Homo sapiens: one gene and its partners. The protein of the gene in region 7 interacts with the protein of the main gene of each other region in a biochemical or structural test. Each region holds a gene or a part of one and is shown on either strand. Other genes may lie near its edges.

Region 1 (4,121 bases), on a different chromosome or scaffold from region 7:
TGCCTGAAAGATGGCTGTGGGCACCCAGGCCGCAGAGGCCCTGGGCAGCTGGGGGCAACCTGCCACCGTTCTGCTCTGTAAGACCTGATGCCGGGCCCCAGCCCCGTCGGGAAACCAGAACCCACTACATCCCGGCCCCGCCACCGCACAGGCTCAGAACAACAGGGCAGGATCACAGGCCGAAGCAATCTGCCAAGAATTCTAATGTAAACACTGATTTATTTAAAAAATACTACAGAGGACAGATTTGGATTCAAAAAAAACCACAGAGAATCATATACAGAAACAAAATGCACTGGACCCCGAGAAGCAGAGGGGGAGCCACCACAGGCCCCCGAGGGGGCAGGGCAGGACGCTATGCACACGCCACTTAGAAAAGAGCGTCTATAAAAGATGCATACCAAGAGATACGTGTAAAATATAGTGGCACATCACGTTAACAAAAGGAAGGGACCAGTACCTCATGGAGACAGGCAGTCGGGGGACCTGGGTGGGCGCTTTGCTCTGTCTTCAAGGCCGCTGTCGGTGACTAGTGCCTCCCTCCGGCTGCGTCACAGCCGTCGGGGGCAAAGAGGTGATGTGCTGTAAGAACCGCATAAAACGATCCAGAGGAAACCATTTCTATCAGAAAAATAAAGTACAAGTTTAGGTGATGAGCGTAAAGCTAGGGCCTGTGCGAGGCTGCTGGCACGAGGCGGTATGAAGGGGTGGGAAGGTGGCTTCTCCCGGCGTGAAGCCTCAGGGGCGGCCACCTGCCCACTGCTCTCGGAGTTAGCTGCTCTGTCAAGGTCCAGGAGACCCCGGGTCCCTGCCCAGAGTCACAGCCCCCGTATCTGGGCTCCGGCCTGGGGCAGCCTCGGGGAGAAGATGGCAGGCGTGCTCTGTGAAATACGTGAGGCTTTCAGGGGCTCCGTTTGTGGTTTTCCTAACCCTCCCTGATGACCCCCACAGAACATGAGGCTATGTCACTCACGGTAATTAAATAAGACATTCGCCCAGTTCAAGAGTGCAGCCAGGACCAGGACTGGCCAGGCCCTTTCCTCCCACCTGTGCGCAGGTGCCCAGTGGCAGCTCTATTCTCTCTCAGGGCGGCTACACAGAGGCAGGGCTTTGAAATGCTTCAAGAACTCAGAAAAGTGAAGGCTGTCTTGTTCCAAAGGAAAGGGCCTTGTAAGAATCTACTTTGTCTTAGAGGAGTGGGGGAGGGGAAGGGCCCTTTCAGGGCACCCAGATGTGTGAAAGGACGGTTCACTCTGGGCCCTTGCAGACCTGCCTGGGCCCAGTCTGGGGCTATTTGGCACCAGCTGTTCACCCCACTAGCCACTGCCTCCCTTGTCCCCTGCCTCCATTCTGCTGGGGGAGGGATGTCGGCAGTGACAGTGACCTGCCACCCTTGAGACTCAAGCTTTCTTGCCAGGATTCACAGTGCACGTCACAAGAGAGCAAGAGCTGGGCTCTGGGGATGTGGACAGATGGAAAGGACATGCCCCATGCCTCGATCCTTTTCAGCTCCCACCTGCCCAGGACCCAAAGGCTGGTTGGCTTTAGCACCCTGTTTTCCACCCAAATCAAGAGCTGTCCTGCACGTGAGGAAATGGCGAGTGCACCCCACCCCGGGCAGCAGCAGAGGGCAGAGTGACCAGCCGTGTGCATGCCCGTGCATGCCCTTCCCGAAATGCGGTTCTTGAAACATGTCTTCAGCACACGACGGGCAAGGCCAGGGAGTGCAGGCAGAGGGCCTGACACACAAGGCCTCAGTTCAGGCTTCCATTCTTGGAGAAGTGGAAGAAGGAGGCCCAGCCGGGGGAGGAGGGGCTCCAGAGAGAAAAAAATGAAAAAGACAGTCCACATCAGCCGTTCCCACCTGGCCTGGAGAGCTCAGTCTGGGGCACTAGGTGGGAGCGGGGCTGGCGGGTCCTGGCATGCCGACTGCAGTCCACGGAGCAGGAACTCCACAGATAAAATTCGAGGACAGAGACGGAGCGGGGAGGAGGAAGGTGCGGGAGGGCAGGCGGTGCAAACGTAGGTAGTAGAGCTGGACTCCACAGGGCCCTCAGCTCTGCCTGGCGCAGAGCTCCTGGGCCAAGGTGCTGACTCACTAGTCCCTTGTCAGCCACTGTCACGGGTATGGGCGAGCCCGCATGTGCTGCAGGCAGCTCCGACGGGCCTGACACCTGACCCCTGACTGCTGCTACCTCTGCACTATGTCACTGATTTCCTTCACCGAACTGAGGAGCTTGCTGAAGTCCTGAGTGGCCGCTGGACCACTGCCTGCTGTCGCCGGGCAGATCTGAAGCTCCCGGAGATTATTCTCCAGTTTGTTGATGGCCTCTCGGAAGGCAAACTTGTTCCTCATTTGCTGGATGGAATCCACATAGCTCACGCAGAACGTGTAGAGGTTTTTGCCGGCCTCCAGCACTGCGCTGTGGCTGGCCATCTGCTCGGAGTTCCTAGAGATGGCGAGGCACAGCGCCTCGGTGCTGTCCAGGACCACGCCCTTGGTGATGGCGCCGCTGGCGATCCGCTCTGGAGGCTGGCGGGTTTTCCGAAGAGACACTCGGGTTGATATGAGAGGGATGAAGGCGGTGGAAGACGGCTGGTCCCCTGCCAGGGCCGAGGATGCTGATGGCAACGTGGAGGGAACGGGGGCTGGGCTGATGGGGGTCCCCGACGGCTTGGCGGACTGTGGCTTTGGAGTGGCCGGGAGCACGGGCTTTTTGAGGCCCTCTCCCGGCTGGCTGGGCTTGGCAGCGTCACTGTTCACAGCATCAACCAGACTCGTGGCTTTTGTCTTTGCGCCCAGGACTGCCTCCCCGGCCGCCTCCTGGCTCGGGCTCTGCGAGGGCTTTCCTCCAGCCTTCCCTGCAGAGGCTGCTGGTGGGGGCGGCGGGGCAGGTTTGAGCCTGGACAATTTCCCCTTGTCCCTCCCTGGCGACTCAGAGGAGTGCTTGTGCCTCCTCACTCTGGACTCCTCGGCGGGGCCCTTGCTGGTGCCCCCTGGTGCACCTGAGCCTGCTTTGCTGGTGGGGGTCACTGGCTCAGCTGCAGCAGGGGTCCCTAAGGCACTGCCCTTTCCAGCTTCTTCCTTGTGGGGGAGGCCCGAGGCAGGGGCCACGGTGACCTGCCGCCGGAGGGGTTTTGGAGTCAGGTTGGGCGGGCTGGAGCCCGGGCTGGACTCCATGATGTCTTTGAAGACCTCATCAGCAGCTTCCTCATTCTTTTTCACCAGCCTGGGGGGAGGCGTTACTGTGCCTCGGGTCACCTGGTCAGACCTGTTCTCCCCTGCCCTCTTCCGAGGCAGAGCCGGCTTCTCACTTTTGTGCCCTCCAAATGTGGACGAGTCAAACTGTCTTCCCGTGGACTGCAAGTCCCGAGGCAGCGTGACTGACCTCCACTCCGTGTCCTTGGCCCCATGGGGAACGCAGGAGGCGGAGCAAGAGCGCAGGAAGCGCTTGCTGGAGCTGCCACCGCCCTCCTCCTCGCCGGTGGCTAGGCGGCTGCTGGTCAGCGTGCTGGACTTCTTCCACAGGTGGGGAGACCGGAAGCCTGAGCCCCCGGACTCCCGGAGGGCTCCATTGGGGACCCCAGCCCCATTGCTGGGCTTTGGGGACTTGGCTGGGTCAGCTGTGTCCAAGGGGGTGAAAGCCAGTGCCCCGTTGCTGATGTCTCGGCCCTCTTCCTCGCCGGCCCCTCTGCGCTCCGGCTGGCCGTCCATCTCCCGGAAGGAGCTGCTGCGTTTGGGAGGGGTTGGGGCTGTCTTCTTCTTCTTCTTGATCAAGGCGCTGAACAAGTTGGTCTTTTTGTCTTTGGGGAGAAGGCGCTCATCTTCATTCAGGCCGCCCTCCGGGGGACCTCGCTCTTTTCGAGGGAGCAATGGAGACACGGCAGGCTCATGGTCCAGAGGATCTGAAACGCAAGGGGAAGAGCTGACAACTCCAGACAACTCTAGAGGCTGACAGAGGAGAATCGCTTGAACCCGGGAGGCAGAGTGCCACTGCTGCACTCCAGCCCAGGAGACAGAGTGAGACTCCATCTCAAAACAAACAAACAAACAAACAAAAAAATTGTCAAAGGTCATCCCTTCTTATCTCCTGTGCATAATGGCCCATTGTCCCTTCCCC
Region 2 (4,121 bases), on a different chromosome or scaffold from region 7:
TTAAAAAGGGTCTTGGCCTGTCACATGCCTTGTGGGTCTGTTCTGTTTTGTTCTTGTAATCCCATTTACTCATTGGATTTGAAGAGAGAGAAAGGTGACATGGCCTAGGTGAAGAGAAGAGGCCAGAAATGGGAGTTTCTCAACCATTTATGCGACAAGTCTTCAGGTGTTGTCTGAGTAGATTTGCAAGAGTAGCACTAGTTGGGATCACTTCATCCTTGGAGTCTTCAAATGTAGAGTCTCCAAAGGCTTTTTCTACAGAAATCAGTAAACAGCTCAGCATGGATCCTCTCTTTTAAATTCACTTTCTAAACCTCAGAAATGTAGTGAGGCAGCTGAATCACGTGTTTGAGACTTTTTTAGATGAGTTAAAATTTATATTCAGCTTATATTTACTGGCACTGCAATATATGGGCTGTATCTCACTGAACCATCCCCACGGTCCTGGGAGGGAGCAGTATCATTCCTATAATATAAAAGAGGTACCTGAAGTTCAGAGAGATGAAGTGTGGCTTCACAGAGGTAATCCAGAGAGTAAGAGCTGAACAAGCCTTCAGCTCAGCTCTGATCATCTTCTGATCCAAGACCCGTGCTAGTTCTACTGTATTCTACATGTACCCTTCTACAAGCTTTGAATTCCATAATCATCAGAGAATCCAGAAATTATTCATTATCACATAATAACAACACTCAAATATTTAAAGTTTTATGGTTGAATCTTTATGATTGAACCCATTCTATCAGGTGGTTATTTTATATCTAATAGAATTCATTTCAGGGTTACACAAAGGTCCGAATCTATCCATTTTACTGAGACCAAAACACTAATGAAGGTAATATTTGTTAGCTGAATGGCAAAACAAATTTTTTCTAGAAATCTCCCTTGTAAAATCTCCAAAACTCTTAATCATTGCATATAAATCAGGACCTGTAAAAGTAAAGCATAATTCATTCTCTCCTTTAAAAAGTTATTTAATAAATCAAATTGTATTTAAATTTTCTCAGAACTATATGATTATTCATTCAGAAATAATTCTATGGAAAGCCATCACAATTTCATTATCATTTAAGTAATTTAAATAAGCATGTACAAGTATAACCACAGAAATGTACCTGTTGACATACTTTAATGAAGAGATTGGCCTATTTGTAGTTAGCCCATTGTTTCATATGCATCTGAAGTGGACCAAAGATTATCCCCAAATATTAATATTATCCAAACTTAGATTATTATGCACTATTCAACTGGTGAGGTCTTTATGGATAAGGTCTGATATTTCCTGTTTGTCTGTATAAGTGCTATAGTACCATTAATGTAAAGTTTAGTATAAGCAGGGTGCAGTGGCTTACGCCTGTGATCCCAGCACTTTGGCAGACCAAGGCAGGAGGATCACCTGAGCCCAGGAATTCAAGACCAGCCTGGGCAACGTAGTGAGACTCCATCTCTACCAAAAAAAAAAAAAAATTTTTTTTTAATTAACCAGATGCCGTGGCATGCACCTCTAGTTCCAACTCCTGAGTCCAGAGGATCCCTTGAGCCCAGGAGTTCAAGGCTGCAGTGAGCTATGACTATGCCACTGCCCTCCAGCCTGGGTGACAGAGCAAGATCCTGTCTCTTTTTACATAAAAATAAAAGTTAAGTTTATCATAGTATAGAAATAGGATTATATAATTTTTGGCCTTAATGCTTATCTTGAAACTCTGCTTGCTATTCAAAGCAGTCAGCTCACCATTTAGAGTTAATGTCACTTCCTATAAAACAACCTAACCAGAAAATTCCTTGGATTTGTCATGTATTAAACTTTGGGTTTTTTTTCCAGATTGAAATGCACAGTTGGTCCTGCCATGAATAAGCATTTCAATATGTCCATAATTATTTCAAATGGCCACGGGACAACACAATACAGTACATTCTCCTATGTGGTAAGGAAGATTCTATCCTATCATGTTTGATTTTTACTTAATCTATTTAAATTATAAGATGAACAAGTTACTTTGTTTTGTTTTTATCTCCCCTCCAGGATCCTGTAATAACAAGTATTTCGCCGAAATACGGTCCTATGGCTGGTGGCACTTTACTTACTTTAACTGGAAATTACCTAAACAGTGGGAATTCTAGACACATTTCAATTGGTGGAAAAACATGTACTTTAAAAAGGTGTTGTAAATTTATTTTTTGTTGCATCTGTCAATTTGAATTAATATCTGTACCTTAAAAATTAAGCAGATTGTTTTGTGTGTGTGTGTGGAGAAGAAAAATCAAGATGTTTATTTGTTTACTCTCCTACTGACAAAACTTCCTCCTTCCAAAATTCATCTACTCCTTTTGCTGATTTTTCTTCCTTTCTCTTGTTTTTTAGCAATCCTACTTTTCAGTTTTGTCTTCCCATCCACCCTCTTTATTGTTATAGCTTAGGATCTTAGCTATACTATGAGCTGTGAGAGTCTGGTCATTGATAATAATTTAAAATAAACATTTTCATCAAGATTTGTAATTAGACTAAGTCACTCTGGGGAAGGAAGAAATGGGGAAAATTGGGTCTGGAAGACAGTTATGTTTCTGCTTCTTAGAGTTGGAAGAGCTCAGTTTAATCAAGTACCAAAAGTACTTTAAAGGTTTTTTTTTCAAATCTCAAATGTTTTCCAGTCAAGGATAGCTTGTCCACAACAAAGGTAAGTTTGAGATCCAGTCAGATTAAACAGCCTACACTAGAAAAGGCTTCCACTCAGGAAATTCCCACTTAGGAACCATTGAGTTATATCCTTTTGATTTGTGGATATAATTCTAAAATATGTGTATCTCTAATAGCTAAAATTCACTTCCTTAATTTTTTTTGTTCAGTGTGTCAAACAGTATTCTTGAATGTTATACCCCAGCCCAAACCATTTCAACTGAGTTTGCTGTTAAATTGAAAATTGACTTAGCCAACCGAGAGACAAGCATCTTCAGTTACCGTGAAGATCCCATTGTCTATGAAATTCATCCAACCAAATCTTTTATTAGGTAAGTAGAAGCTTCTGATGGGTATAAGAAAACAATGAATACAAGGATGATTTTGCTGTAGAATAGTCAAGAGGAATTGCAGTTTTATCTCTGGCTTTGATGCTGTTATGTTGCTTTTGAAGGCTTCTTTCCAATTCAGGAGAGAAAACTATATTCAGGTTCTGAGTGTAGTTTGACTTATCAATGCTAGTTCATTCCAAGAAGTATCTTATCCTGTTCTATTACATTTAAACAGAGTATAGCAAAATAGTTTAATGTGGCATTGTAGTATACATGCACTTACATTATGTACATATCAATTCTATACTAACCTTAGTGCCCAGAAGTGGAATTACCTTTTTTCTTCCATTCTCTAGATATGTTTTTGTCCTGCCTGCTTTACACACAGCTTTTCTTTATGCCAGACTCTCTTTGAATTGATATCTCATTGGACCCAGTTCAATCTGCCTTGTTTCCGTTAATTCTATCAGTCTAGCAACAATAGTTAAGTTCGGTTTTCTTTGTATTTTTTTCAGAGGTGAAATATTTATTTTGTGTAATTCGGTGAATAAAATACAAATGCATTTCTTAAGCTTATGAAATATGCATTTTAAAAATATTTTCAAGTTAAATAAGTTGTTTCCAAAGAACAGTTACCCATGAACTTCCATTTGATGTTGACTGTGCCTCTGACCTGTAATCAGTGCAGGTGATTAAATTGAATCCCTCTCTTACAGTACTTGGTGGAAAGAACCTCTCAACATTGTCAGTTTTCTATTTTGCTTTGCCAGTGGTGGGAGCACAATAACAGGTGTTGGGAAAAACCTGAATTCAGTTAGTGTCCCGAGAATGGTCATAAATGTGCATGAAGCAGGAAGGAACTTTACAGTGGTAAGTCCTTTGAGCAATGGTTCTACTCAGAGCTCTGCATCTTTGCCTCTAACCATGTGGCTTTCATGGTACCTGAGACATCTCAGTTTCGCCTTTAAGGTTTGCTAGTTAATTTCCTTGCAGTGTAGCCAAGTAGTATTTTTTATTTAATAACTGAAATTATCTAGAGTCTTGGGCTAACCATGTGGAAAAAATACATACACATACACACATGCACATATAATGTTTAGACAAGAATGAAGATTAC
Region 3 (4,121 bases), on a different chromosome or scaffold from region 7:
ATGCATTTTATAAGAAAACCACCTGGGAAATTTCCCAAACAAGACAAGTCCCAGACTCTAATCACATCATGGAAATAACATGCTTCAGTAACTTTGAAGCAAACCTACAGTGTAGTAGGCAGATATCTAGATTACATTATTCCTCTCTTCCACTGACTAGCTGTGTGACACCAGTCATATCACCTGACTTCTCTGTGGCAAGTTTCTTCCTTTGAAAGAAGGGGATGATAATAATAGAACCTCATGAAGTTTGTTTAAGGATTAAGGAGGTTAACATATATGTGTTGAATAGTAAACACCAGGGGAATATTACTTATTACAATCAATATGAAATAAAGAAAATTATGTTTGTTAGATAATGAGCAGCAAGTTGAAAATATTCTTATGGCTATGGTCAAGAGAAATCGGATGCTGTCGGTTCTACTAGCTATGATAATGTTCTTAGATTAAGAGAAAAGAATTATCTTCTAGAAAAAATTAAGCATCATGTTTATATCTTATCAATGGAAGAAACTGATTACAGACACAAATTTACTACTTCTTCATGCTCCGTACTGGTCAGTGAATACTGGATTACAGCACTTACTATGCAGTCCCTCTATCTGTATGATTCTTTGATTAAGGTTTTCACTTCTTGAAAGCAGAAGTTGTATCAAAATTCTTTGAGTCTTAAATGTATACTAATGCTTCACATACAGTGGTACTCAATATATGTTGAATGTATGAGGAATGAATTTATAAAAATAAATGCATGGATTTGACAGCTTTCAAAGAAAGAATGGAATTCATATAGAGTAGGTTTAACATTTAAAATGTAAAGTGTTTTCAGAAACTTCCTTCAAAACTTAAATCTACTTCTTAAAAACAAAAATCTACTTCTCAGCAGCCTTTTCGATGTGATTAGGTTCAAAGGACTGCACGGTTTTCTGTGTTTCTACTTCAACTTGACAGAAAATATTTAATTTTTCTTAAATAAGTGAAAGAGATTTATACTTGTATTACTTCTTGACTAATATATCATAATATCTTTTTAAGAAAGAAAAGTAGAAAGCCTACTTGGTAGGAATTTTCATTTATTTATATACACATAATGGTTTTATTAGTTGGAATTGTTTTTTAAAGTTAAGATTTGTTTTAAATAAATTAAGATGAGGAAAATGTTTTGCTTCTGAAATCTTGAAGGTATTTCAGAGTACATGTTGTATTGTCCATGCTTGTCTTCCAAAATTAACTACATATAGCAAGATTGGCACATCTTTTGTGGGTATGGTATATTTTTAATCTAGGCATCACATTGATTTGAGCTATATAATTATTTTGAAATGTTAGTGCTTATGAACTATTACATGATTTTATATCTCAGAAAGAATATGATATGTGTATATAATTATTTCTTACCCTATTCGAGTCAATTCTTGCTCTGGAAGTATAGATGGGAGGTGGGATGTTGAAAGCCTGAGGGACCAAGTACTCCTCAGCATCCATCATATCTTCCAAATCCTCTTCATCCAAGAGATTCTGAAAGAACTTGCTGTCATTTGGACTGGGAAGCTTCATACGATCATCACCCTAAAAGAAAGATTGCCCATCAGACACAAATATGATTCTTTCTTATCTTAAATATGTGGTCTCTGCAATAAATTTATGTAATATCATAACAAATGGTTGAAAAATTCATACACACATTTTAAAAAAACAAGTCTTTAGCACAACCACCGGCCATTAAGAAACCTATAACATGCTTAGAAATGATAGGGCCAGGTAAACAAACTTTATACAAGGAGAATATGATAAATGCCATTAGAGAATAATAAAGCAAAATCAAAAGATGTTTTTAGGGAGGTAAAATCAATTTCAGGTCTGAAAATAATTGTTCATTGCCCAGATAGTGTATGGGTTGCAACTTTAAGAATAAACAATAAAAGGTGATCAATTTATCAACGTTTATTTGGTTGGTTTGATGCTGTAGGATTATCAGGACCATAGGGTCTATACTTTATTCTATAGCATACTGACTGCATTATCAAAGTAGGGGCATTCAAAACTCACAGTGCAAGTGGCAAATAGAGTAAAGGAGTATGAGAAAGACACCAAAACCTTTGTTATGCTCTTCCTCACCTCGTCTATTTCTTAAGTATTTTTCCTATATTTTTAAAGTTACATAATTTTTGGAAACAATTTCAGTTCATGAAAACTAATTTTGGGGAAAAAATAAATGGAAATAAGTATCTTCTAAAACCTAGCTTTTATCTTTATGTCAGACTGTCGATATGAAAATAAAGGCTACCTTGCTTTACTGAGGAAACATAATACACTCTAGTCCAAGGCCCATTTGTTTAGAGTTTAGGTGAAATTAATCCTAGAGAAATATATTATTATTTTTTAATTATCCAAGTCTATCTATTTTTCTAGTGTTAAATATAAAATATTTCTTTGGTTGGTTGATTAAAATGTGCATCAATTCATTTGAATTGAGTTATTGCTTAGATACTGCATATCTCTCCAAATAAAACAAAACATATTTTAAAATATTTTTGGGGAAATTAAATAATATACTGAAACTTTTGATTCACTGTCTTCAAGCATGGGCAAGATTAAAACAAAAATCTGTCTTCCTTTTGTTCCGAAAAAAGAAAATTATACTAATGAACATGACTTACACATAATGTTAATAAAATCAAGGTGCTAAAATAAGTGTCTGAGGATTAAGACCTCTTTATGTATATGTATAATCATAATTATCTGTTCAGTAGCAGAGCCACTTGAATACTAAGGGAAGGTGCTAAAAGGTGGATCTGACGTGAAATAAAAAGCTCTTTTCCATAAGTCATGTCACATGATAATTCTGCTTAATTAATCAACATGTTTGTGGTCCTTTCCACAGTTCCAAAGTCCTGATACTACTCATTTTGCAGTGAGTTTGCCATTGGCCTAGTCTTAAAGGCATAAGTCAAATGTACTCACCTGAATAACTAGGTATCTTTGAGGGTCTCGAGCCATCCTTGAAAACTCAGCAGCCAGTTCCTTAAATTTAGGTCTACTGTCAGCATCAATCATCCAACCTGGAAATTTACACAGTGAAAATGTCACTATATTCGTAACTAGAAAGGAGTTGAAATTTAAATTTTGTGAAAATATGAGCAAAAGTTTGAAAAATGTTGTTTTAATCGTAATGATCTGAGAAAGAAAGCAAGCTAGTGAAAGAAACGACTCAATTGGTAAGGCTTTATCGGTCTCTTTGTTGATATTCATAACTAAATGTAATGTACTGTAAAACAAAAGATAAATTTTTTCTCTGATGTGTATAGACGTGACTGCAATATAAGTTATTATTTTGTATTAGGAGTGACATAGGAGAGAAGATTTGGTTACAATGCTTACACTGGCACAAACGGGAAAAGAGGAATTAAAAGCAACTTTCTTGTGCTACATTTGTCCTGGTGGACAAAAAAAAAAAAAAAAAAACTAATGCAAAGTGATTGGTAATGCCTGTTCAGCAATAGACATTAGCTTATCTTAGTACTAGCTTGTCTAGTATAAAAATACTATCAGCAATTTTCAAGGTATGTATTCTTATTTAGCTGGGAGTCTAGATAAAGCAGACCTTATCTCTACAGGCTCTGTTTAGCTAATGAGATGACAAGAATAAAAGTATCAAGCTTTCCTTGATTTTCTTGCCAAATTATCCTCTTCTTAGGTATTAAAACCCCGAAAGAAAGGTAAAATTCTCCATTAGGGAAAGTGTTTTCTTGGTTTTACATAATTAATTTCATCAGAGCTAAATTCTGATGAGTTTAAATCATTTCCTATGCTAGTTACAGGATTAAATTATATAAGACATGCATGTTTTTAAACTTTCTTCCATAGATGTCTACCAAACAATATTTAATAGAATAAGGCTGTAAAGCTTGTTCCTTCCTTTTCCGGGAGTTCAGTTTTTATTCCTATTCTGGGAATTTTTTGGGTGTCATTTTATGTATCATTAATGTCATCTGCTTTTTTTCTCCCCAAACAAAGCTCAAATGCTCTGTATTCTATATGCATTCATTTGAAAAAATGCTTGCTAATGCCAAGATGCTAATGAGAAAACAGGTGTTTCTGAAACTATTGAAGCCAAAAAA
Region 4 (4,121 bases), on a different chromosome or scaffold from region 7:
TCGTTGCCCTGGTCACTGCTGGTCTCCTCAGAGTAGTAGATCTTGCTGCTGGTCAGAACAAAGTAGTGGGGATACCATTCCTGGAACAGACCAAAGAGGGACTTGTGAGCCAGGGTCCTCACACCCACTGGCCTACCACCCCCAGCCTGGCCCAGTCCTCACGTGGTTCACAGGGTCCTCCAGGTAGAGGATGCCATTCTTGATAGAGTTGCTGATGTCGTTCTCAGAGTACATCATGGATGTAGGCACCTCCTCGTAGGCACTGCCCTCAGCCAGCTTCTTGTGCTGTAGGGGCAACCAGAACAGGGCAATGCAGACCCCAGTCCTCACCCCACCTCCTCACCCAGGTTTAGGCCCAACAGCTGAAGCCATGGCCTGGGCAAGGCACTGAGAAGTGTGGGGCTTCCGCAATAAGCCCGCCACCCCACCTTGATGAGGATCTTCCTCTTAAGCTGGTTGGGTGAGGGGAGCCCGTCGGCAGAGATCTCCACGGGCTTGGTGAGGAGTGTGTCCCCCAGCACCTTCTTGAAGTATTGGGCCATGTTTCTCTGCTGGGCAATGCTGCAGTGGTCCTCAATGGACAGGATGACTGGGTACCTGCGGGATGGGGGACAAGCACAGTGAAACAGATTCTGCAATTCTCTGGGTCTAAGTAGCCCCTCACAGTGAGCTGTTGGAAGCCAAGGGCCTGGGGGCTTCTTGTCTGTAAAAACTATCCCAGAAAAGAGGCAGGCCATAGCCACTGGTGGGGCAGAGAGGGGTTCTACAGCTGTGGCAGCAGTGGAAACCAAAGGGTGGCAACTGATGCAGTCCCGAGCTGGCCCAATTATGGAGGCTGCTCAGCAGTGCAAGAAAAATGTTTCACACCAAAGAGGCCAGGAGAGAGGAGAAGCCTCCAAAGTTAGCTGTTAGAGCCCTGGTGAGCTAAGGGAGACCAGTGACCACAGTTTAAGCAGTAAACAGAATTGAAGGAATGGGACACAGGGAACAGAGACAATCTTCTGGGCTGTGAGGGCAAAGGAGTTGGCAGGACACTGGCCTAAAGAAACCAGGGCATGTTTTCTGAAGATGAGAAGAGCATGTGTTCTACAGTCTAAAGGACCCATGAAGAAGAGAGTGGGCCCAACACGTAGGAAACAGAAAGTGTAACTTGGGAAGCAACAGCTCAAGCAGGGAGCAGGTGACGAGGAGAGGCCAAGAGGAAGGACAAAGATGAAAGGCTGAGGGAGAGGGGACAGGGCATTTGAGGAGTCTTTCTGCCCTCTGTCCCTCTAGAACGAGAGACCTGGAGCCAAGTTAACCCCTGGGTCATCCAGCCTCCGACTCACTCTGAGGCCACAAAGGCATGCTCCTTGATGGTGTGCAGGACATCTGAGAACTTGATCTTGGTGGTAAGGGTGTGCCCATGGTAAATAACTGGCATCCCATCCGGGCCGTCCCAGCAGTCCACTGGGGAGCAACATCACCATGGTCAAGCGGGCAGGCCTCCCATCTTCCCTCCCCCAGCCCTGGACCCCACGCACACTCAATGCAGCGACAGCCCATCCGCAGGCAGCGAGCATAGGCTTCCAAGGAGGACTCACTGGAGAACTGGTCCCCGGTCAGGTACCTGGATAGGCAAGGAGAGGCAGGTAGGTATGGTCAGATGGGCCCTCCTGGGGAAGAAGCTGGGTGGGCCTGAAGGAGCCACACTCACGTGTTGTGCGAGGAGGAGATCCAGTAGTGGGAAAGAGGGTTGTTCATGGTGTCCGGGCATACTGCATCCAGCTGCGAGTTCCACACACTGTTCTCTTTGGAGAACAGGAAGGTGACAAACTGTCCAGAAACATGTGGAAGGGAAGAGACAGTGAGTCCCTGCCCTGTCCAACCCAAGATGGTAGGTTGGGGGTAGGAGAGAGAGTGCTCTGTCCCAACTGGGGGTGGGCAAGGTGCACAGTAGGTAGAAACAAGGTGGCATCCCTAAGGAGCGTCTAGCTCCTGGAGCCCGGGTGGGGTCCTGGTCACCCCTACTCATTCTCTTGACAAAAAATGGGTGAAACATCGGGCTCACCTCATCCAGGAAGAAGTATGGCTCCTCGATCTCTCGTAAGGGGTCTCGGAGGAAGCTGAGCATGAACTCCTGCACCTGGAGGCGATCAACAGCCCACAGCTCCTGATGGGGTAGGGAGGGCAGGGGATGAGAGAAGCCTCCAGTCAGGGATGAGCCCAGCCCCCCACAACCTACCAGCCTGGGCCAATGTCAGCCCAGCCATACCCCCTGGTAGTCAAGAAGGAACTGCTGGAACTCAGGAAGGGACACTCGGCAAAGCTCCGGCCGCTCCCCAGCCCTGCAGGGAGAGAAGGTAAGCTAGCTAGTATGGTCAACAGACAACAAGGTGCCCCACGGAAGGCAGAACCCAACTCCCAGCCAGCACAGCTTCCCAGAATGGTCCAGCATGGTTCCCTACTCCCACTGCCTCCCACCTGGATCAAGAATCGCCCAGTGGAGAGATGAAGGGGGCCCAGGGAAAACCCCACCTCCCCACTCCAAACCAAACCTCAGAGTACTGGCTTCCAAGAAGGGGAGGTCCATCTGCAGGAAACAGAACCTGGTCAGGGCAAGACCCCTGGGAGGCCATGTGGGAAATGGGCTAGTAAGAAGGCAGGCTAGAGCAGCAGATGGGGGCAGGCCTCAAGAGGAGAAGAACTGGAGAAATGGCACCCAAAAGCCCCTAAGCAGGGCAGCAGGGCTGAGGCAGGCAGAGCTGGGGTGTGGGGTGGAAGAGCAGGGGCAGGGGTTGAGGGAGGGCAGGTGGCTCATGCACCGTCTTCTGGGCGCTGTACATGAGGCTGCGGTACAGCTGAGCAAACTGCCCGTAGGTGATGTCCCCGCTGCGCTGCTCCAGGTCCTGCATGGTATAGAGCAGGAGTGCCAGTCAGGCAGTCAGGCCCCCAGCTGAAGGGCTCTTGGCTTCCCCTGCCCCCATCTACAGACAGCCCTGGGTGGCACTTACCGTCAGCCGCTCTCGGAGGAAGCGCATGTTGGGGACCCGGTAGTTGACCTGGGACAGCATGTTCTTCAGGTCCTTGGCTGATATACTGAGAAAACAGGGACATCCCCAGTGGTCTCATCCAGCTTCTCATGACCTCTGACCTGTGGGTCGAGCCCACCTGGGGCTGGACAGGTAAACAACACTATTCTGGGAACCTGGAGGCCTGAGGGCAAGACTGGATCAGAACCCATGGGGTGAGGTTAGTCCCTTCCTTTCTTTGGACCTCAGTTCCTCATCTGAGCAAAAAAAAAAAAAAAAAAAACAAAAACAAAACAAACAAAAAAAACCTGTAATTCTGGCAAGGAAGATGTGAACAGATTCAGTAAAGTGGGTCAGGCATGGGAGGAAGAAAAACCACACTCCAGGCCTCCCCTCCTACCGGCACTGCTGAGGCCTGTGCCAAGGTGGCAGTCAGCCTATCCAAGACAGAAGGCAGGGCTCACTCACAACTTCCCTGTTGGGGGCAGCATGGCAGCAGGTCCCTACCTGCTGCCCACTGGGATGCTGGGAGTTTGGTCCTCAGAACCCACTAACCCATGAGAGGGAGGAAGGAGGAGGTGCATGCTCCACCAAATACAATGACTGGCAACTGGGCACCTCCTGGGGCTAGACAGGGCCTGGCTCCAGGAAAGAAACTGAGAGAACAAGCGCCCCTGCTCTCCAGGGGTGTCCTGCCCAGGATGTGAGGCTGGGGACACTGCTGGACCTGGCAACAGGATGGACAAGAAGGGGGAAGGGGGGGGCTTTCTCTCCTGGAAGGTGGTGTCAAGGAGGGGAGGGGAGGGTGGGACCACCTCCTCTGGGCCCCAAGAGCCTGGGAGGAGGCACCAAAATTCCCCGAGGGGGCTGAGCGCCACACTGAGTGGATCAAGCACTGCGGAGGGAGGGCTGGCTCTATATAGGCGCCCCCTCCTCTGATCCTCAGTCACCCAGGAGGTAGGTGCTATCAGGGTCCTTGTTTTCCAGTGAGGAAACAGAGGCCTTCTGGTTGCAACTGCCTGCATCACCGATCTTGCCCTCTGTGGTCTCTTTCCCATCAGCATACGAACAGCTTGTTACTTCTTCCACCAAAAACACCTGTCTTGCCCC
Region 5 (4,121 bases), on a different chromosome or scaffold from region 7:
ACTGACAATCAAAGGTTGGTATGAAGACAAGTTTCACTGATAAATACTTTGACCAATGCTGGTTAACAGCTAACCTGACTTACTGCCTCCAAAAGCTGTGTATTTTTAAAACTTAAATGCAACCAGCTCTGAAAGACCATTATCCATATTTTTCATGGATGTCAACTCTGCTTTTTGGTCAGGTATTGGGAGGGGCAAGTTAAGAGATTATTAACTTCATATTATCCTTCTCAACACAAGAAAGCAGAAAGACATTCCAACATACCAGATCTTTAGCTGGTTTCCAGGAATTAACAGGGACTTTTATTACCCAATGTCTAATATCAACTATTCTCCTTTCTTCATTATCACATCTGTGATTTTCCTGGTCTTCAAACCTATATTCCTAGGGATAAGATGGGGTGCAGGGGCAGAGAAATGGGAAGGGTGGGGAAGGTTTTACAAATTCCATTATCACCACATATGATGACTACTCAGAAAATAAACTGCTCAATCACCCAAACACAGTAATAAAATTCTCGTAGAACAGCAGTTCTACTATTAACTTCAGTAATTAAATTCTCATAGGGCAAAGTATAGTCTGGGAACCCCTAGAGGTCTCCCCTATATCCTTTGTGGGGTGGAGAGGAGACAAAGTAAAACCACTTTCATAAGTCTAAGATATTTGCTTTTTTTCCACTGTCATTTTCTCACAAGTGGAGTTTTCCAGAAGCTACAGGAGGTGGAATACTACAATAGGTTGAATGAAATGCAATGCCGCTATTCTCATTCAATTTTTTGTTAAAGTTATTTTATTTTCTAAAAAGGGGTCCTGAGATCAAATTTGTGAACCACTGTCCCAGAGTATGGCCAATTAAGACGTCTTACACAGCATCTGGTAACTCCATCAATCTACTTAGCACTCATCACCCAAACAAAAAAGTGATGGTGCCAGTGATGTCTCCTAAGTGGGGATCAATACCGTTCTATACATTCTCGTATCTTGAGGATAACAAGACACAGGCTACACACTATCTTCTTGCTATATGTATTAAAGACACTCAACCAGTGATGTGAAATATCATAACCCCCAATACATGGCAACCAACAATTACAGTGAACACCCCCACATATCCACCACCTGGATCTTACCATTAACCTTTTGCCATACTTGCTTTTTCAGATACCCATACATTTCTAGCAGTTACAAGCTGAAGACATAAGTACAGGCATATCACTAGTTTTTTTTCAAAGCAAAATTTACATACAAAATGCACAAATCTTGGGTGTACATTTGCTGAGTTTTGACAAATGTATAAAACCCAAACCCATATCAACTAAAGAATACAATTATCCATTCTACTATAAAGACACATGCACACATACGTTTATTGCAGCACTATTCACAATAGCAAAGACTTGGAACCAACCCAAATGCCCATCAACGATAAACTGGATCAAGAAAATGTGGCATATATACACCATGGAATACTATGCAACCATAAAAAGGATGAGTTCATGTCCTTTGCAAGGACATAGATGAAGCTGGAAACCATCATTCTCAGCAAACTAACACAGGAACAGAAAACCAAGCACCGCATGTTTTCACTTACAAGTGGGAGTTGAACAATGAGAACACATGGACACAAGGAGGGGAACATCACACAGCGGGGACTGTCAGGGCGTCGGGGGCTAGGGGAGGAATAGCATTGGAGAAATACCTAATGTAGATGACGGGCTGATGGGTGCAGCAAACCACCATGGCACATGTATACCTATGAAAGAAACCTGCACGTCCTGCACTTGTATCCCAGAACTTAAAGTATTAAAAAAAAAAAAAAATACAATTATCCCAGAAGCCTGCCCCTTCCCAATCTCTGCCTATTCTCCCACAGAGGCCATTATTCCTGATTTTTTTTCCTACCATAAACAGGTTGTGTTTGTTCTAAAATTTCATATAAATGGAATCACATACACTATGTACTTTTTCATGCAAAGTTTCTTTCACCTAGCATGTTTTTGAAATTCAATCATATTGTAGTATCAGTGGTCCATTCATTTTAATGCTGAATAGTATTCCATTTATGAATACATCAGTGTTTATCAATTTTCCTACTAGTGGATTATTTCTAGTTTTCTGCTCTTAGAATAAAGCTGTTATTAACATTTTTGTACCTATGCGCCTTGGCCCCATGCATCATTCCCTCTTGCGTAAACACCTAAGAGTGGAATTTCTAGGGGAGGAAAAACTTATAATAGGGAATTTTAAAGGTACACAGGAGAACAAAGAATAGTACAATGAATTCCAATTAAAGCCAGCTGCAACTATATTAATTCATAGACACTCCTGTTTCATCTGTATTCCCCCAATTACTCTGAAGTCCTAGGTATTATCATCATTTTGTCTTTAAATACTCAATATGCAAACAATAGTTTCAAATCTAGTAATTTATCATATTTATCACTGACTTATCTATGGATTAAGAGTTTAATTAAAGTAGCAATGGATAAACTTTGCTTCTCTTCACATCTTTTAAATGATGTCTCTCTACCACCTCCCTGATATCCAGAAAGTCAGTGGTATGAATTCAGATACGTTTTCTGTTGCCATTTGGAAAGGATTAGTGTTAAATACAAAAACTGGTCTTAATGATAAAAATAGAGAACATTACCATAGCCAACCAGATTTCCCAACTGCCAAAGCAACACCTTGACTGAACTAATCCCATGCTATGGTATCATGTTCTAAATGAAACTACATGAGACTTAAAAATACTAGTTTTCTTAAGCAGTCCTTTGTGAGAAGGGAGGTGGTCCTCATACATCCAATACTGAACAAGGAGATAAGACGTTAAACCTTCTGGTCACCAGATTTTTGTTAGCCTTAAAAACTTGCTTGTGCTGGAAAGGGTTAGGGGAAATGAATGACCTTCTCAACCACTGCTGATGACAGTGTATACACATACCTTTTCAGAAGGCTATCTGGAAAAAACCGCACATCTTTTGATTTGGAAATTCCACTTCGAGAACTTAAGTAAATCCTAGCATAAAGCATGCAACAACGATCTTCTTCCCAGGGGTTGTTTGGAGAAAAATTGTTGACAGTGTTCACCACTGCATTAAAAGTCTGAACCACGGCCGGGTGCAGTGGCTCACGCCTATAATCCCAGCACTTTGGGAAGCCGAGGCGGGAGGATCACCTGAGGTCGGGAGTTTGAGACCAACCTGACCAACACGGAGAAACCTCGTCTCTACTAAAAATACAAAATTAGCCGGGTGTGGTGGTGCATGCCTGTAATCCCAACTACTTGTGAGGCTGACACAGGAGAATTGCTTGAACCCGGAGGCAGAGGTTGAGGTGAACCAAGATTGCGCCACTGCACTCTAGCCTGGGCAACAAGAGCAAAACTCTGTCTCAACAAAATAAATAAATAAATAAATAAAATTAAATTTAAAAAGTCTGAACCACATATGCCAAGCTACTATGAAGGAGGGGAGGAGATTTGCCGTTCATCAATTTTCACTGCATCTAATAGATTTCAATATAATTGCAGTCTGTGCGAAGTCTTTAAAAGAGCTCAGGGCTTTGGAGACAACTATGAAGAAGTGGCACTTTGAAAATATAGGACCCGGCCAGACACAGTGGTTCACGCCTGTAATCTCAGCACTCTGGGTGGATTGCTTGAGCTCAGGAGTTCAAGACCAGCCTGGGCAACATGGCAAAACTTCATCTCTACAAAAAATACAAAAATTAGCCAGGCATAGTGGCAAGTGCCTGTAGTCCCAGCTACTCCGGATGCTGAGGTGGGAGGATGGCTCGAGCCCGGGAGGTGGAGGTTGCAGTGAGCCCAGATGGCGCAACTGCACTCCAGCCTAGGCCACAGAGCCAGACTCTGTCTCAAAAATAAAAACAAATCAAATCAAACCAAACAAAAAATAGGACCCACTGAATAAGTTTCAGTAAGGTGAACTGTAGAGTTTGAACAGCATACACACAATAATGACAAGGGGAAAAATGACAAGTCTAGCTAGACAAGAGGTTCAGGTAAGATATCAACACGTTAGGAAGAAGCCAAAGGACAGCATGACACAATCCAATACAACTTAATACAGCTCATTTTATTTATGGACTAATCCAAGGC
Region 6 (4,121 bases), on a different chromosome or scaffold from region 7:
GCAGGACAAGATGGCACAGTGGTGACAGGCTTGGAGTCTGAATCTTGACTTTGCCATTTAGTAACTGCGTGGCCCCAGACGGATCACTTGACCTCTCCGAGCTTCAGTTTCCTCACCTGTAAAAGGGAGCTCATCACAGTTCCCACTGCTGGATTACTTGTCATTGTGGGTATCAGAGTCTCACAAAGTGGCCTCAAAGCACTGCGTGTGGAATGATGTCACTCGGACAAAAGCTCTAGGGCGGAGGGACTCCCTTCTGGTAACTGCTGAGGCCCAGATGCCTGGAACAGGTCCTGGCACATAGCAGCTGCTCAAGATGTATTTGCTGGATGAATGAATGAATGAATGAATGAACAGAGGAAAGGAGTGAAAGACGGGCTTAGTCATTCTCTCCAGGGCAGACAGGTCTCCAAAGCGAACCTCTGCCCAGCTAACTAATTAGCTTCCTCCCATCCATTTTTTAACAGACAGCTTACGGAGCACCTGCTATGTGTGGGGTTTTCTGGCCTATAAGACCAACACCTCTCATGAGGACAACTATCGTGAGCCCATTTTATAGATGAAGAAATTGAGGCTCAACAAGACCAGGACACTCACTCAAGCACACTTGGTCTCAGAGCCAGAGCCTGTATCTGAGCAGGTGCTTCCTTCTGATGCCCTGCCTGGCTGGCTTGTCCAGTCACTCATTCCTTCCTTCATTCATCCCTTCACTCTATCTACAGGTATTCCTGAGCCCCTCCTGTGTGCCAAGCAGGGACAGGAGTGAGCCAGACCCATGGGTCAGTCAACCCCATGCCCCCTGTCCCACCCTCACCTGCTGGGGTCTCAGCCCAAAGCCCATGGAACCCACCCTCCATAAACACACACACACACACACACTACACACAAATACATATACACATTACACACATATACACATACATACACACAATATACACACATACATACATATACACGCAAACATACACACACATACACACATGCACACATAGACATTCACATACACACATACACATGTATATACATACACATATGCACACACATACACACAGACATACATATACACACATACACACATATATACACAAACATACACATAAACATATAGTCATACATATACACACATACACATATATACACATATACACATACACATATAGACATACATATACACACATACACATACACACACAGACACACATACGCACATACACACGCACATCAATATACACACACATACACACGTACACAAACACACACACAGGGAATGGTCCCAGAAGGTGGCCAGCCCACTCGGTCAACCGGGTGGAACCCAGGCCACTCCACCCTCAGGGGAAAACGGGCGCCTGGTGAGACTGAGGAGCTCTTTGTGCAAGGGGCAGGGTGGGTGGACAAGAGGGGCTGCTGTTACTCACTAACCAAAGAAATAGAAGGATATTCCCGTTTGGTCAATGGCCCGCCTGTCTGTCCCCTGAGCCCCCGCCTCCTTCTGTGGCCTTTCCAATGCCCTGACCTCATCTGGAGACCGGCAAGGGCTTCCTGTGCGCCTGGTGTGGTCTCGTGTGATCCTCCCTCACCGATGAGGAAACATGCTCAGAGAAGTGATGTAACCTCCTTGGGGTCACACAGCCGGCAGTGGCCAGGGCTCGGGGCAGAAAGGGGAAACCAATGCTCAGGAAGGGGCTAGGGGTGGGAAGGAAGTCAGAGTCACATTGAAAGTGAGGCCCTGTCCCTTCCTCATTCCTGTCCGGCCACTGGGGTGCCAGCTCATGGGCTGCAAGGGCACCCGAGGTTGAAGGAGCCCAGGCCAGAACAAGAGCAGCAGCCAGAATAACCCAAATCCCTCCTCAAGTTGGCAGAGCTCTGACCTCAGCAAAGCCCAGGAACAGAGAGCTTAAGCCACTTTCTGAGGTCACAGAGCAGCAACTGGCGGAGCTGGGAGGTAAGCTAAGGTGGCTCAGACGCCAAGGTGGGTGAGCCTAGCGTAGCTTTCCACGCAAGAAGCTAAGCTGGCCACTGGGCTTTTCGTGGACCCAAGGACACCAGTGTCACTCAGATCTGGCTTCCAGCTCCAGCTCTGCCATGAGCCAGCTGGGCATCCCTGGGTAAATTGCTTCCTCTCTGAGTCTCGATTTCCTCAGCTGTAAAATGGGGCTCAGCATTCCTGCCCCTGCCCACCCCCGGCAGTGGGGAAGCTGTGACACCATCAAAATGAACATCAGCCCTCACACCTGTAATCTGAGCACTTTGGGAGGCCAAGGCAGGAGGGTTACTTGAGCTCTGGAATTCCAGACCAACCTGGGCAACATAGTGAGACCCCTGTCTGAAAAAAACCTTTTTTTTTAATAAGCTGGGTGTGTCCCAACTACTTGGGAGGCTGAAGTAGGAGGATCTCTTGAGCCCAGGAGTTCGAGGCTGCTGTGAGCTATGATCACACCACTGCATTCCAGCCTGAGCAACAGACTGAGACCCTGTCTCTAAAAATAATAAATAAAAAAAAAAGTGAACAACAGGCAATAGATGCTGGTTTTAAACTAAACACTCAAGGTTGTGCTGAAGACTGTCCACAACCTCCCAGCAAGGCAGGCATTACCTTATCCCCATTGTCCAGATGAGGAAACTGAGGCCAAAGGAATAATGGAACTTATTGGAAGCTGGGATTTGAACCTGGGCAGCTGGGCTCCAGCCCTAGTTTTTAAGCATTAAATCAGGAAAGTAAAAAAAGTTGACAGCTCCTGGCACTCAGTCAATGCTCATAAATATTTCATTGCTGAAAACATATCATTATTTGCCCAAATGCAAGTCTAGCTTTGCCCCCAATACCTTCCACCCACCCACCTGGCATGGAGGGGCTCTCTGAGGATGTCTGGGGGATAAGCTGGAAGAAAACATGCCCTGGAATGGGCCTGGGGACAAGGGGAGCTGACACGGGCTGAGGCAGAAGAGCTGTGCTTCAGAGCCCCATCCACGTGCCTTGGGTCATCCCTGCAAAGTGGGATGAGAGTCCCTTTGACACAGGAGGAAATGGAAGCCCAGAGAGGCCAGGTGGCTTCCCTGAGCTCCTCCAGCGGGGAATAGCAGGCCTGTCTTAAACATGCGGATGCAGTTTAAGCCCAGGCCTGTCTGCAGTTCAGGCTCTTTGTTTGTTTTGAGACAGGATCTCTTGCTCTGGACTGCAGTGGCACAATCGCAGTTCACTGCAACCTCTCACTCCTGGGCTTAAGCGATCCTCCCACCTCAGCCTCTCAAGTAGCTGGCACTACAGGTGCGTGCTACCACGTTCGGCTAATTTTTGTATTTTTTCTAGAGACAGAGTTTCACCATGTTGCCCAGGCTGGTCTCAAACTCACGGGCTCGACCGATCCACCTGCCTTGGCCTCCCAGAGTGTTGGGATTACAGGTGTGGGCCACTGCACCCGGCCAACTCAGGTTCCTATCTCTGGACTGCAGAGTAGCTCCCCCATGACCCCAGGCACCCCAATGAGGGTCCAGACAAATGGGGACGGGCCACCTTACAGGTGAAGGGATGGATTTGCAATCACACAAATGGGATTCAGGTCCCAGCTCTGCCCCTTCTCAGCTGAGAGAACCCAGGCAAGAGATTTCACCCTCTAGACCTCATTCTGCCCTCTGAAAAATAGAGACAAAAATAGTTTTGTATCCAAATGTGCTGAGGGTGCTTGACTCAGTGCTTGGCACACAGTAAGTGCTCAATAAAGGCTTGCCACCATCATAATAGTTGTTAATGCAACCCAGGGTTGGCTAAAGCCAGACAGAACCTTGTACCCAGAGTTCATAACAGCAGCCACTTATCTCAAGAGATCGGAATTAATCTTTAACAGGTGAATTCTGCTCCAAATGGGCGATGTGGAGCATTCCAGAGGGCCCACTGGCATGAAATAAATGTTATCTTGGCTCCCCAGACCCTATCTGTGACAACAAGAGGAGCTGTTACCTGGGTCCCTATAATTTGGAGAACGGACTGGAGTGTCTTTCCCAAAGTCAAATGGGGGAAACTGAGGCAGACAGCAGGGTCAAGGGCCTGCATGGAGTAGAGACACCCACTTCATGTAGACCCCATCCCCCTAGGAACAGAGGAAGGAACTCAAAGGACTTTGACC
Region 7 (4,121 bases):
GCTGTGTAAGCCCTACAGGGTGGGCCTTGGGACCGTATAGCAGTAAGTGGCCTGAGAGCCCTGCGCCGCCTGTCCCTTTCACTCATCACCGTGGTACTTTTCGTACCGTGGCGGTCTTGGCGGCCTCCCTTGGACCGCACAAAACCATGCAGCTCCTGCACACACCTCGGGCTCAGCCCAGGCACTTTACGGCGTTTTATCTGGACAAGCTCCTGGGTCAGGGCAAAGGACGCTGGGGCCCAGGCGTGGCCCCCATCATGGCTCCTCTGTGCACCACTGAGGGTCCTTGGGCCCCTCGCTTACCCAGGAACCCTGTCACCATCTGTCAGCGGGTGCCACAGGCTGGGACCCACCAAGGCTGAGTCAGCACAACAGGGTCCCTTCCCTCTGTCCACTCATTTCAGCACTTGAGGGTTAGGTCTTTCTGCTGCCTTAATGCATTCGCTGTGATCCTTTTTCCCTAACGTTACGTGTGTGTGTGTATATAGATATACATACATACATATATACATATATATATACACACACACACACACATATACATATATATATACACACACCACATACATACACATATATACACATATATACACATATATACAAACATATATATACATATACACATATATACATATATACACATATATATACACACACACACATACATATATATATACACATATATACAAACATATATATACATATACACATATATATACACATACACATATATACACACACATATATACATACACACACACACACACACACACACACACACACACACACATATATTTTTTTGAGACAGAGTCTCACTTTGGTGCCCAGGCTAGAATGCAGTGGCACGATCTTGGCTCATTGCAACCTCTGTCTCCTTGGTTCAAGCACTTCTCCTGCCTCAGCCTCCTATAGCTGGGATTACAGGTCATACCACCACACCCAGCTAATTTGTATTTTTAGTAGAGACAGGGTTTCACTATGTTGGCCAGGCTGGTCTTGAACTCCTGACCTCAGGTGATCTGCCGGCCTCGGCCTCCCAAAGTGCTGGGATTACAAGTGTGAGCCACTGCGCCCGGCCCCTTTTTTTTTGAGATCAGGTCTCTCTGTCACCCAGGCTGGAGTGCAGTGGCACAATCTTTGCTCACTCCAACCTCTGCCTCCCAGTTTCAAGCAATTCTCACGTCTCAGCCTCCCGAGTAGCTGGGATTACAAGCATGCGCCAACATGCCTGGCTTATTTTTGTATTTTTAGTAGAGCCGGGGTTTCACCACGGTGGTCAGGCTGGTCTTGAACTCCTGACCTCAACTAATCCACCCGCCTTGGCCTCCCAAAGTGCTGGGATTACAGGCATGAGCCACCACGCCTGGCTAATATTTTTAAACTGTTTTCTAACATGGGTTTTTTTCCCGGATGTTGTTCGTTTTTACTCTCTGGGTTTATTATTCTATTCCCTTGCCTTCTGCTTCTTGTCATTTTTTATTCCTTAGTAAATTTTAGGTTGGCCTCAGGAGGTTTCCTGTCTAGGCTGGGTCTTGTCCTTGCGCTGGCTTCCTCCTGGGGCCACTCACAGGCCAGCACAGGTGGGCTCAAGGCGACAGGCCAGCCCCTCTGCTGGGGCTGCAGCAGGCATCGGGGTGGGAGAGCAGGCCACAGCCACTCCCAGGCCGGGGTCTCTGGCCGGACAGGGGAAGGGAGATGCAGGCAGGCCCAGGAGCAAGAGGGAGGCAACAGGAAGAGGTGCTGACAGAGAGGCAAAAAGAAGGAAGAAGGAGTGGGCCAGACCCCGGGTTGGGGAACCGAGAGCTGTGTGTTCCTCCTCAGCCTGGGAACCCCAGAGCCTCGGGGCCCGGGCAGGGGACAGGATGACTCATGCCCGCTGGCTCCTGTCCTCACCCTCAGCGTGGCCCAGAGGGGGCCTGGGTGACCTGAACGTTCCCAGGCCCCTCACAACGCTCCACTGTTCAGAGAGGCCCAGTGAGGACAAGGGTCTGGCGGTGGGCCCGGCCTGCCGGGAAAGGAGCCCAGCCCCCAGCCTCTGCCGCAGCCTCTCTGCACCCCTGCAGTCTGGGCCCCGGTCCTCCGCGGTCAAGACAGGCAGGGGTGGAGTCTGGATCAGGGTCTCCTCCTCTCCGCCCCCAACCATGCAACTGTCCAGCCCCCTTCCCAAGGCCAGGCCGCCCACAGCCCAGCTCCTTCCTCCCTCGGAGCCAGCCTGTCACAGCCTTTCTGCTGCAGCCTCAGCAGAGGTGGCTCTCAAAGACAGCTCCGCTCAGCCTCAGGGCTCAAGGCCACCCATGCCCTACCTCGCCGGACACCTCTCAGGCTGTTCCACGAGTTCCTCCAGCCGTTCCCCACCTGCAAACTCCCGCCTGGCCTTCTGCCCCCGGCCAGGTCACCCCAAGACACCCCCAATGCCCTTACTGCTCCCTGGGGATGGCGCTCCAGGCCAGGTCCTTCCTCAGAGGGGTGAATGGCTCTAGTTAGGGTCCCCAACCACCACAGCCCCAGACCCGTGGGAGCCGAGGCCTGAGCTCTCCTGCCTGCCCAGCCTCCCTGCACCCACCCCTGGCACGGGAGCCCGAGACAGCCTCCCCAGAGCCCCCAGGTGAAGTGCCACCTGGCCCGTCATCAGCCCGGGGGGGGGGCGGTCACAGGACAAGCACCTCCACGTACTGCTCGGGTGGCAGTAAGACTCTGGAGTCAGCAGGGCCTGTAAGCAAGCCCGCCGGTGTCTGCCCCTAGGGCCTCCTCCTGGCTGGGAAGCAGCCACGGGGCAGGCTCGGGCAGCTCAGGCAGGGGCAGGCTGCATCAGACAGGGAGGTGGCACAGCCCGGTGGACACTCTGGGGACACAGCCTCAGGAGTGACTTGGGGATGCCCTTTCCCTCCCCAGGGAGGCAGCTCTGGACCATGCCACTGTCTGCCAGAAAAGCCAGCCAAGGAGGAGGGAGACTGAGCCGGGGACAGTCAGTCCCACCAGGGCCAATGCCACCCCAATCTCAGCAGTCTGCTGCTCCCTCCCCTTTCATCCCCTGTAGCCCCTGTGCAGGGGTCACCGACCCCATCCTGGTCACGTCACCTCCTCCACTCCCACCCAGCCTTCTGCAGCCTCGACGAACCCACTTCTGTCTGTGGCAGCCCCCACCCTTTCCCCAGACCCCGCCCGAGCTCCTCATGGTCTTCTTGTGGCCACTGCTTGGAGGGCGTATGTTCGGCAGTGGTCTCCAGACCCCAGAGTAAGCTTGAAAACATAAGCCAGCCCCTGCTGGAAGCCCCACCAGGCCCTCGGGCCCCACCTCTCTAGCCCCTCTCCCTTTTCAAAACCAGGGTGTCTTTCACACAGCCTGAGCCCTCAGCCTGGCCCCTCCTCCTGCTCCCCCTCAAGGAGGCCCCCCCGGGGGGATCCGTGAGGCGCCCCTGGCATCTTTGGTGCTGCCTTTTCCCAGCTTCGTACTGGAAGGGCCAGGACCCTGCCTGCCGCAAGGGTGGCTCTGGGTAGGTCTTCGAGGGGGCCTGGGTCCCAAGTGGGTCCCCCCTGCTTCTCAGGACACCAGCCCTGGAATAGCTGTCCCCTTGATGCCAGCCGGCAGGAACCCTGGCATGGGGCAAGGCCCGCTAGATCCTCTGCAGAGGTGGGGGTTGGGGGTCCTTTCTCAATCTTCTTCCTTCCCCAGCAACTTCCTGCCCCAGAGGCAGGCACAGCCACCCCGACCACAAAACATCACCCTCCTGGTCACATCCTCAAGAAAATGGGAAGGTTGATCTCAGAGAGCCCCTGCCCCAAGTAGCAAACCTTCCTGAAGCCAGCACCCAGGACCCCAGGATGGCTCAGGGCTCAGAGGTGGCCACTGCCCCTCCCTCCACTTTACACACCCAGGGCCCCATCCCACCTCATTAGGCAGCTGCAGCCCAGGGTCTGAAGCTGAGCGAAGTCCAGTCGCGGTGAGGGTCCCGAGGGGAAGGCATTTCAGAGATTCCACCCCCAGGGTCCCGCCTGGGAGCAGCTCCTCCGGTGGGGAGGAAGGAGCCACCTGTGGGGACAGGCAGCCAGCAGGGGTACAGCAGGAACGAAGTCCTGAGGCAGGGCGGGTACGGGTGGCGGGTGGAGGCTGAGGCTGCACC

The links.
Region 1: the proteins of SH3BP2 (region 7) and ABL1 interact in a biophysical measurement, tested with the Homo sapiens proteins (one large-scale study listed by IntAct).
Region 2: the proteins of SH3BP2 (region 7) and MET form a complex in vitro, tested with the Homo sapiens proteins (one large-scale study listed by BioGRID and IntAct).
Region 3: the proteins of SH3BP2 (region 7) and ERBB4 form a complex in vitro, tested with the Homo sapiens proteins (one large-scale study listed by BioGRID).
Region 4: the proteins of SH3BP2 (region 7) and PLCG1 form a complex in vitro, tested with the Homo sapiens proteins (2 studies listed by BioGRID, with this or other methods).
Region 5: the proteins of SH3BP2 (region 7) and YWHAQ form a complex in vitro, tested with the Homo sapiens proteins (one study listed by IntAct).
Region 6: the proteins of SH3BP2 (region 7) and TRPV4 interact in a test that uses a peptide from one of them, tested with the Homo sapiens proteins (one large-scale study listed by BioGRID).

The regions. Positions count from the first base shown.
Region 1 is NC_000009.12:130,883,754-130,887,874, reverse strand, and holds the end of ABL1 (tyrosine-protein kinase ABL1), read right to left. Parts: intron 3,907-4,121; coding exon 2,192-3,906; 3' UTR 200-2,191; downstream 1-199. UniProt on the Homo sapiens protein: Non-receptor tyrosine-protein kinase that plays a role in many key processes linked to cell growth and survival such as cytoskeleton remodeling in response to extracellular stimuli, cell motility and adhesion, receptor endocytosis, autophagy, DNA damage response and apoptosis.
Region 2 is NC_000007.14:116,755,617-116,759,737, forward strand, and holds part of MET (hepatocyte growth factor receptor isoform b preproprotein), read left to right. Parts: intron 1-1,820; coding exon 1,821-1,923; intron 1,924-2,021; coding exon 2,022-2,158; intron 2,159-2,842; coding exon 2,843-3,004; intron 3,005-3,720; coding exon of another isoform or gene 3,721-3,774; coding exon 3,775-3,874; intron 3,875-4,121. UniProt on the Homo sapiens protein: Receptor tyrosine kinase that transduces signals from the extracellular matrix into the cytoplasm by binding to hepatocyte growth factor/HGF ligand. Regulates many physiological processes including proliferation, scattering, morphogenesis and survival.
Region 3 is NC_000002.12:211,419,043-211,423,163, forward strand, and holds part of ERBB4 (receptor tyrosine-protein kinase erbB-4 isoform JM-a/CYT-1 precursor), read right to left. Parts: intron 3,063-4,121; coding exon 2,965-3,062; intron 1,570-2,964; coding exon 1,399-1,569; intron 1-1,398. UniProt on the Homo sapiens protein: Tyrosine-protein kinase that plays an essential role as cell surface receptor for neuregulins and EGF family members and regulates development of the heart, the central nervous system and the mammary gland, gene transcription, cell proliferation, differentiation, migration and apoptosis.
Region 4 is NC_000020.11:41,161,409-41,165,529, reverse strand, and holds part of PLCG1 (1-phosphatidylinositol 4,5-bisphosphate phosphodiesterase gamma-1), read right to left. Parts: intron 3,079-4,121; coding exon 2,994-3,078; intron 2,889-2,993; coding exon 2,805-2,888; intron 2,573-2,804; coding exon 2,538-2,572; intron 2,328-2,537; coding exon 2,255-2,327; intron 2,153-2,254; coding exon 2,051-2,152; intron 1,816-2,050; coding exon 1,697-1,815; intron 1,610-1,696; coding exon 1,524-1,609; intron 1,450-1,523; coding exon 1,329-1,449; intron 598-1,328; coding exon 429-597; intron 286-428; coding exon 163-285; intron 81-162; coding exon 1-80. UniProt on the Homo sapiens protein: Mediates the production of the second messenger molecules diacylglycerol (DAG) and inositol 1,4,5-trisphosphate (IP3). Plays an important role in the regulation of intracellular signaling cascades.
Region 5 is NC_000002.12:9,620,377-9,624,497, forward strand, and holds part of YWHAQ (14-3-3 protein theta), read right to left. Parts: intron 1-4,121. UniProt on the Homo sapiens protein: Adapter protein implicated in the regulation of a large spectrum of both general and specialized signaling pathways. Binds to a large number of partners, usually by recognition of a phosphoserine or phosphothreonine motif.
Region 6 is NC_000012.12:109,826,694-109,830,814, forward strand, and holds part of TRPV4 (transient receptor potential cation channel subfamily V member 4), read right to left. Parts: intron 910-4,121; exon of another isoform or gene 117-909; intron 1-116. UniProt on the Homo sapiens protein: Non-selective calcium permeant cation channel involved in osmotic sensitivity and mechanosensitivity. Activation by exposure to hypotonicity within the physiological range exhibits an outward rectification.
Region 7 is NC_000004.12:2,799,074-2,803,194, reverse strand, and holds part of SH3BP2 (SH3 domain-binding protein 2), read right to left. Parts: intron 1-4,121. UniProt on the Homo sapiens protein: Binds differentially to the SH3 domains of certain proteins of signal transduction pathways. Binds to phosphatidylinositols; linking the hemopoietic tyrosine kinase fes to the cytoplasmic membrane in a phosphorylation dependent mechanism.